Homo sapiens: one gene and its partner. The protein of the gene in region 1 purifies or fractionates together with the protein of each later gene. This does not show direct contact. Each region holds a gene or a part of one and is shown in the gene's direction. Other genes may lie near its edges.

Region 1 (4,027 bases):
GATCACTTGAGCCTAGGAGCTCAGGACCAGCCTGGGCAACATGGTGAAACCCCATCTTTACAAAAAATACAAAAATTAGCCGGGCATGGTGGCCTATAGTCCCCGCTACTCAGGAGTCTGAGGCAGGAGGATCGCTTCAGCCCAGGAGGTCAAGGCTGCAGGGAGCCATGATTGCACCACTGCACTCCAGCCTGGGAAACAGAATGAGACCCTGTCCCAAAAACAAGAAACTCAAATTATTTATTTAACAGAGATATCCAGTCTTTTGGCTTCCCTGGGCCACATTGGAAGAAGAATGGTCTTGGGGCACACATAAAATACTAAAATACACTAATACTGACGATAGCTGATAAGCTTTAAAAAAATTGCAAAAAAGTCTCATAAATCTCATAATGTTTTAAGAAAGTTTTCCAGGCACGGTGGCTCACACCTGTAATCCCAGCACTTTGGGAGGCTGAGGCGGGCAGAACACAAGGTCAGGAGATCGAGACCATCCTGGCTAACACGATGAAACTCCATCTCTACTAAAAATACCAAAAAAAAAAAAATTAACTGGGCGTGGTGGCAGGCGCCTGTAGTCCCAGCTACTTAGGAGGCTGAGGCAGGAGAATGGCGTGAACCCGGGAGGCGGAGCTTGCAGTGGGCCGAGATCGTGCCACTGCAGTCCAGCCTGGGCGACAGAGCAAGACTCCGTCTCAAAAAAAAAAAAAAGTTTACAAATTTTTGTTGGGCCACATTTAAAGCCGTCCTAGGCCACAGATTGGACAAGCCTGGTGTAGTATATAGTCATCAAGTATTTCATGACTTTAGTACTATTTTAGGTACTGCTATAAAACTCATGCTGGTTGGGGGGCAGTGGTTCACGCCTATAATCCCAGCACTTTGGGAGTCTGAGGGAGGAAGATTGCTTGAGCCCAGGAGTTCAAGACCAGCCTGGACAAGACCCTGTCTCTACAGAAAATTTAAAAAATATATGCTTTCACAATAAAAAATAATAAAAACTGATGCTGTTCATGAGCTTATGGTCTTAAAAATTATATTCCTGTGGGTTTTTGGTATTCATATTATTTAACTACATTGTTTTGAATACATTTAGTTATTTCATTGTATAGAATATTATATATTTCTGTATATTTCTACATATTCATTTTTTGTATGTACAGAATGTTTTTCAGAGAAATAAAATACATTGGGAGCTTTATCATTTTCTTTCTTTGTTTTCCAAGGGAATTACCTTCAGAATTACAGGGAATTTTTGATAAAGAAGAGGTGGACGTTAAAGTTGAAGACAAGAAAAATGAAATATGTTTGTCTACGAAGCCTGTGTTCCAGCCCTTTTCAGGACAGGGTCACAGACTAGGAAGGTAAATATGCCTATTGTCTTGTTTTGCATAGATCAAGGCTTAACTAATATTCTGTCTATCAGTATTTTACCCATGTAGACCACATGAATGGAGCTTATCATTTCTCCCATTGGAAATCAGATTTTTTTTAATGTTAATTTTTATGAGGACACATAAGTCATAGTTACCTAAGTATATATTAACAATGCCTGGCCAGGCATAGTGGCTCATGCCTGTAATCCCAGCACTTTGGGAGGCCAAGGTGGGCGGATCACCTGAGATCGGGAGTTCGAGACCAGCCTGACCAACATGGAGAAACCCCGTCTCTACTAAAAATACAAAAAATTAGCCAGGCGTGGTGGCATGTGTCTGTAATCCCAGCTCCTCGGGAGGCTGAGGCAGGAGAATCGCTTGAACCTGGGAGGCAGAGATTGCGGTGAGCCGAGATCGCGCCATTGCTCTCCAGTCTGGGCAACAAGAGTGAAACTCTGTCTCAAAAAAAAAGAAATGCCAGCAATACAGTAAAAAATCATGCAGGCTTTTTTGTTTTTCTTTTTTTCAAATCAAAAGGGCTTGGCTTATTAAGGACAGAATTCAATAGTTAAGTTCTTTTGTGTCCCTTGCACTCACCACTGTAGAGTACATGTACTAGCTTTTGAATATTATTGTTCTCTTTTTTTTGAGACAGAGCCTCACTTTGTTGCCCAGGCTGGAGTGCAGTGGCATGATCTTGGCTCACTGCAACTTCTGCCTCCCTGGTTCAAGCAATCCTCCTGCCTCAGCCCCTCTAGTAGCTGGGATTACAGGCATACACCACCACGCCCAGCCAATTTTTGTATTTTTAGTAGAGACAGGGTTTCGCCATGTTGGCCAGGCTGGTCTTGAACTCCTGACCGCAGGTGATCCACCCACCTCGGCCTCCCAAAGTGCTGGGATTACAGGTGTGAGCCACCGCACCCAGCCTATTGTTCTCTTTTATGGTTACCACTGTCTGCAACATTTTGTTCTGTGATCTATGTATGAATTTTGAGGTAATAAAAATGAAAATCAGTGTCAGTATCAAAGCCTTAAATTATTTTCAAGTTTTACAGTTTCCATCCTATCTAACAGAATATGCAGAGAGATTATATAGATATGAGAGCTCTTTGATTTTTATAAATTCTCATATTTTAAATTATCAAGATTGGTAAGGTGCATACATATTCATCCACACATACAAATATATCTGGATGCATCCTTCAGAATGATCAGGAAGTACTTTATTTAGTTTCTTTTTCATTATAACCTAAGGACTAAGCTCAATAAAGAACTTATAATTTCTTCTAGAAATTTAACCTGGGCAGTAGGTAAAGGTAAAGTCCATAGATCTATGAACCTTCTTTAAAATTATCCATTCTGTAAAGCACTACTCAAATAATACCAGTAATAATATATGTAGCTTACAAATTACTCAGATATGTATAACTTCATCAGATTCTTAGAACCATCATATATTGTGGACATAAATAATATATCTTTCTGTTATTACTGAAGAAACACATATAACTTAAAAAATCTTCCTTAAAGTTATACTTGCTATAATATTTTTATAGTAATTATTTAATAATAAAGTTTTATTGAATGGAAAAAACGTCTAACTTTGTTGTCTGGATTTCCTTAGTGCCACACCAAAAATTGTTTCTAAAGCAAAGAATATTGAAGTTGAAAATAAAAATAATTTGTCTGCTGTTCCACTGAACAACTTGGAACCCATTACTAATATACAGATCTGGTTGGCCAATGGAAAAAGGATTGTCCAGAAATTTAACATTACTCATAGGTGAGTCTTCAATTTCAGTATTTGATATTTTTTCACCAAGTTAAAATTTCATTTTTTCTTTTTGGTTCAGTCAACAGTTTATTTTTTAGAGATAGAATCTTTCTTTGTTGCCCAGGCCAGAGTGCAGTGGCACAGTCATAGCTCACTGCAGTCTTGAAGTCCTGGATTCAAGCAATCCTCCCACCTCAGCCTCCTGAGTTGTAGAACTACAGCCACATGCCACCATGCCCAGCTAACTTTTTTTTTTTAATTTTTATTTATTGCCAGCTAATTTTAAAAATTGTTTTGTAGAAAGGGAGTCTCACTGTGTTGCCCACACTGGTCTCAAACTCCTGGACTGAATTCATCGTCCTGCCTTAGCCTGCCAAAGTGCTGGGATTACAGGCATGAGCCATCGCATCCTGCCAAGCATTTTATTTATTTATTTATTTTTTTGAGTCGGAGTCTCGCTCTGTTGCCCAGGCTGGAGTGTAGTGGCACGATCTCAGCTCACTGCAACCTCTGCCTCCCAGCTTCAAGTGATTGTCCTGCCTCAGCGTCCAATGTAGCTGGGATTACAGGTTTGCACCACCAAGCCCGGCTAATTTTTGTATTTTTAGTAGAGACGGGGTTTCACCAGGAGTTTGGCCAGGGTGGTCTCAAACTTCTGACCTCAAGTGATCTGCCCGCTTTGGCCTCCCAAAGTGCTAGGATTACAGGAGTGAGCCACCTCGACCAGCCTGGCCAAACATTTTAATAAATAGTTCTCTAAACATAATTATGTCTAGACAGTTTTTTTTTTTTTTTGAGGCAAGGTCTCACTCTGTCACCCAGGCTGGAGTAGAGTGGCGCGAGCCACCGTGCCCAGCTGATAATGGGTATTTTT
Region 2 (3,500 bases), on another chromosome or scaffold:
AGTGATTGCCCCTTGATCAGGTAGCTAGCCAGTGGCAGAGAAGCTGAAATTGAACCCACACTTTGTGACACCTGGTCCTCTGTCCTTTGCTCCCAAATATGCTGTTTCTTGGGGACCATGAATCACTGGAAAGTCACCAGAAGGTCTTTAGAAGGCTAGGAGAGGCCAGGTCAGCTTTCAAGCAGAGAAGGCAGGAGTCACAGTGGTGGTCAGGATTCAGAGGGAGGCAGGGAGCCCAATAAGATGTCTGCAATGTTTAGGGAAAGATGGAACTGGAGATTGGGAGGAGGAGGTGCTGGTAGTAGTGTTAGTGAAGTGGCCACCAAGATGGCAATGAAAGAGGAGGTGTCATGGTTTAGCAATTCCGGGTCTGCACAGAGAAATGTTCACGCCTCCCACCATGCTTCAGTTCATTGCTCCTGGTGGATTTAACCAGCACTCACACAGACTTTTGGTGGGAGATCCAAATACAGAGGCCCCAGGGTGCCTATCGGGTAGCTGGGAAGACAGAAGTCTGAACAGCTCGGGAGGCTGAGGCACAAGAATTGCTTGAACCTGGGAGGCGGAGATTGCAATGAGCTGAGATGGTGCCACTGCATTGCAGCCTGAGTGATGGAGTGAGACTCTGTCTCAAAAAAGAAAAAGAAAAAAAGAAAAAGAAAAAAAGAAATGTGAGCAGCTAGCAGACATACAGAATGTGATGTGCTGGGCTCAGGAAGCAGCTTGTATGGGTACAGAGGACACAGGATCGGGTGTCACAAGACCTGGGTCCTATCTCCAGCTCTGCCACCAGCTGGCTGTGTGACCATTGGGAAATCACTCTACCTTTCTGGCTCATACATCTGTAGAATTAGCATGCGCCCAGAGTTGCTGTAGGACAGGGACCAACAAATGATGGCCCACAGCCCAAATCCGGCCCGTCACCTATTTTGTGTGGCTCATGAACTAAGAATAGCTTTCACATTTTTAAATCATTGAAAAAGAATCAAAAGAGAGTATTTTGTGACACATGAAAATTATCTGAAATTCAAATTTCAGAGTCCAAAAATGAAGTTTTACTGAAACACAGCAGGTTTTCTGGTTTTTACCAGAAACTTCCCCCCTCCTAAAAGAATAAGAATTAGTCCCCCACCTTAATCACGCTCTGGTGCAATAATTTTTATTTTCTTCATAGCGGTTGTTACTCTTTGAAAATATCTATTTACTTGTGGGTTTTAACCCCTGTCTTTCCTCACTATAATAATTTACATTGCAAGGACTTCGGTTTGCTGATCTCTCGCAAGTGCCTAAAATAAATGAATGCATGCCTGAATGAATAAATTGCAGCTGGTGCCCCTTACTAGATGCCAGAAATTTGTGCTTATTCTGGGCACTCAGGGAGGGAATGGCTTGGATCTAGGAGTCCCAGGAAGTTTAACCCACGGACTCCTGTTTTTTTCCTGCTTCCTTAGGGGTCTTGAGAAGCAATGGCCACAGAAGCCCCTGTGAATATAGCACCACCTGAGTGTAGCACTGTTGTCAGCACAGCAGTTGACAGCCTCATTTGGCAGCCAAACTCACTAAATATGCACATGATAAGGCCCAAGTCCGCCAAGGGACGGACAAGACCGAGTCTGCAGAAATCCCAGGGCGTGGAGGTGTGCGCTCATCATATACCATCTCCGCCTCCAGCCATTCCCTATGAGTTGCCAAGCAGCCAAAAACCAGGAGCCTGTGCACCCAAATCTCCAAACCAGGGAGCTTCTGATGAGATCCCTGAGCTGCAGCAGCAAGTACCCACTGGGGCTTCCTCTTCTCTCAATAAGTATCCAGTCCTTCCTTCCATCAACAGAAAGAACCTGGAGGAGGAGGCTGTGGAAACCGTTGCCAAAAAGGCCAGCTCACTGCAACTGAGCAGTATCCGGGCTCTTTACCAAGACGAGACGGGCACCATGAAGACAAGTGAAGAAGATTCCAGAGCTCGAGCTTGTGCCGTGGAGAGGAAATTCATCGTCCGAACCAAGAAACAGGGCTCTTCCAGGGCTGGAAATCTGGAGGAACCATCGGACCAAGAACCAAGGTTGCTGCTTGCTGTTAGATCACCAACAGGCCAAAGGTTTGTACGCCATTTCCGGCCAACAGATGATTTGCAAACCATTGTTGCTGTGGCCGAACAGAAAAACAAAACCTCCTACCGACACTGCAGCATTGAAACAATGGAGGTGCCCAGGAGGCGATTTTCTGACCTCACCAAATCTCTGCAAGAGTGCAGAATCCCCCACAAGTCTGTGCTGGGCATCTCACTGGAAGATGGGGAAGGGTGGCCCTGAGTCCACAGCCACCCAGCTGAGGTCCTGGGTCTCTGAGCAAAGGAGCATGCTTGGGCGTTGTGGCCTCTTAGGCAGCCTGTTTCAAGTGCCATGTGGACCTGGTGCAGCTGGGAAGCTTGGGACTCTCGTCTGCACTGCGTGTCCTCTGAAGCAGTGAAGTCTGTGCCTATGCCGAGCGCGCTAAGAAGTCTCCCTTCCAGCTGTTCCATTCTCTCCACCACCAGCGTAACTGGCAAGTTACCAAGGTTGTTCCTGAAACAGCAGTGATCATGACTTCTCCTTTCCAGAGTTTTGGGTCCTTCTGAATTAATGGTCCTTTTCGAACACCGGCTTGCCTTTACAGTGAACTGTGATTCTCTCGAAGCCAATGCTTTCCTGTCTGTATTTGATGCAGGATTAAACACTTCCCAGAGAGGATTCTAGTCTGGTAAATAACCACAGTGTAGGAACTATCTAACTGGCATTTGTGTTTCTTGCGAGTATTTTGAAGAAACAGGCCGTTGACCCCATCTTTGGAAGTAGCCCTTTACCATGCATGGTCAGTTTCTTAGGGATTTACTATTTGTGTGAGGTGGCATCTAAGGGAAGAATGGGTTTTCTTCCCCAAAACATCAGCATTTCTAAAATAGTCCTAAAGCTTGAAAGTAAGTTGCTTCCATGAGCATGGATTACCCAGTAGCTACTTTTTAATAGAGACTGACTAGGTTTACAACTTCTGGGAGCTACTCTGTGGGCTGAATTCTTCCAAAACCGAGAAAAGCCAGTGCAGTCTGATTTCTTTTGCTTTTGTCAGTAATGGAATCTTTTGTTTTTAAAATGTACAAACCTATAAGTTTAAACAGGTTTGTACTGACAACCTCCTTGGCTTATTTGGGGGTGGAGCAATTGTTTTATTCCCCAGTTTCAGTGCGTTGCCCACTTCAAACATGGTGTGTCCTTTGGAGCTGTGACAGAGGTGCCTGTTCTGACTTAGAACCTCTGGAGGAGGAGGGGGGTGCCTTGGTCTCGTGTTACTTTGCTGTGCCTGTGCTGAGAGACCATGTGCCCGAGCATCTGGTTGACCGGCATGAAGTACATCAGCCTGTCTTAGCCTGAGCTGCTTTGAAGACCATGGGGTCTTGTGTTTCCAACTTCGAAGTGCTGATGTGGACAGTTTGCCAATGTTCTCTTCTATTGCAAGTTCAGCCAGAC

What was found.
Region 2: the proteins of UBXN2A (region 1) and UBXN10 purify together in Homo sapiens (affinity purification with mass spectrometry, with the first as the bait; one large-scale study listed by BioGRID). This does not show direct contact.

What each region holds. Positions count from the first base shown.
Region 1 is NC_000002.12:23,981,670-23,985,696, forward strand, and holds part of UBXN2A (UBX domain-containing protein 2A), read left to right. Parts: intron 1-1,226; coding exon 1,227-1,364; intron 1,365-3,003; coding exon 3,004-3,162; intron 3,163-4,027. UniProt on the Homo sapiens protein: Acts to repress the ubiquitination and subsequent endoplasmic reticulum-associated degradation of CHRNA3 by the STUB1-VCP-UBXN2A complex in cortical neurons.
Region 2 is NC_000001.11:20,189,096-20,192,595, forward strand, and holds part of UBXN10 (UBX domain-containing protein 10), read left to right. Parts: intron 1-1,451; 5' UTR 1,452-1,466; coding exon 1,467-2,309; 3' UTR 2,310-3,500. UniProt on the Homo sapiens protein: VCP/p97-binding protein required for ciliogenesis. Acts as a tethering factor that facilitates recruitment of VCP/p97 to the intraflagellar transport complex B (IFT-B) in cilia.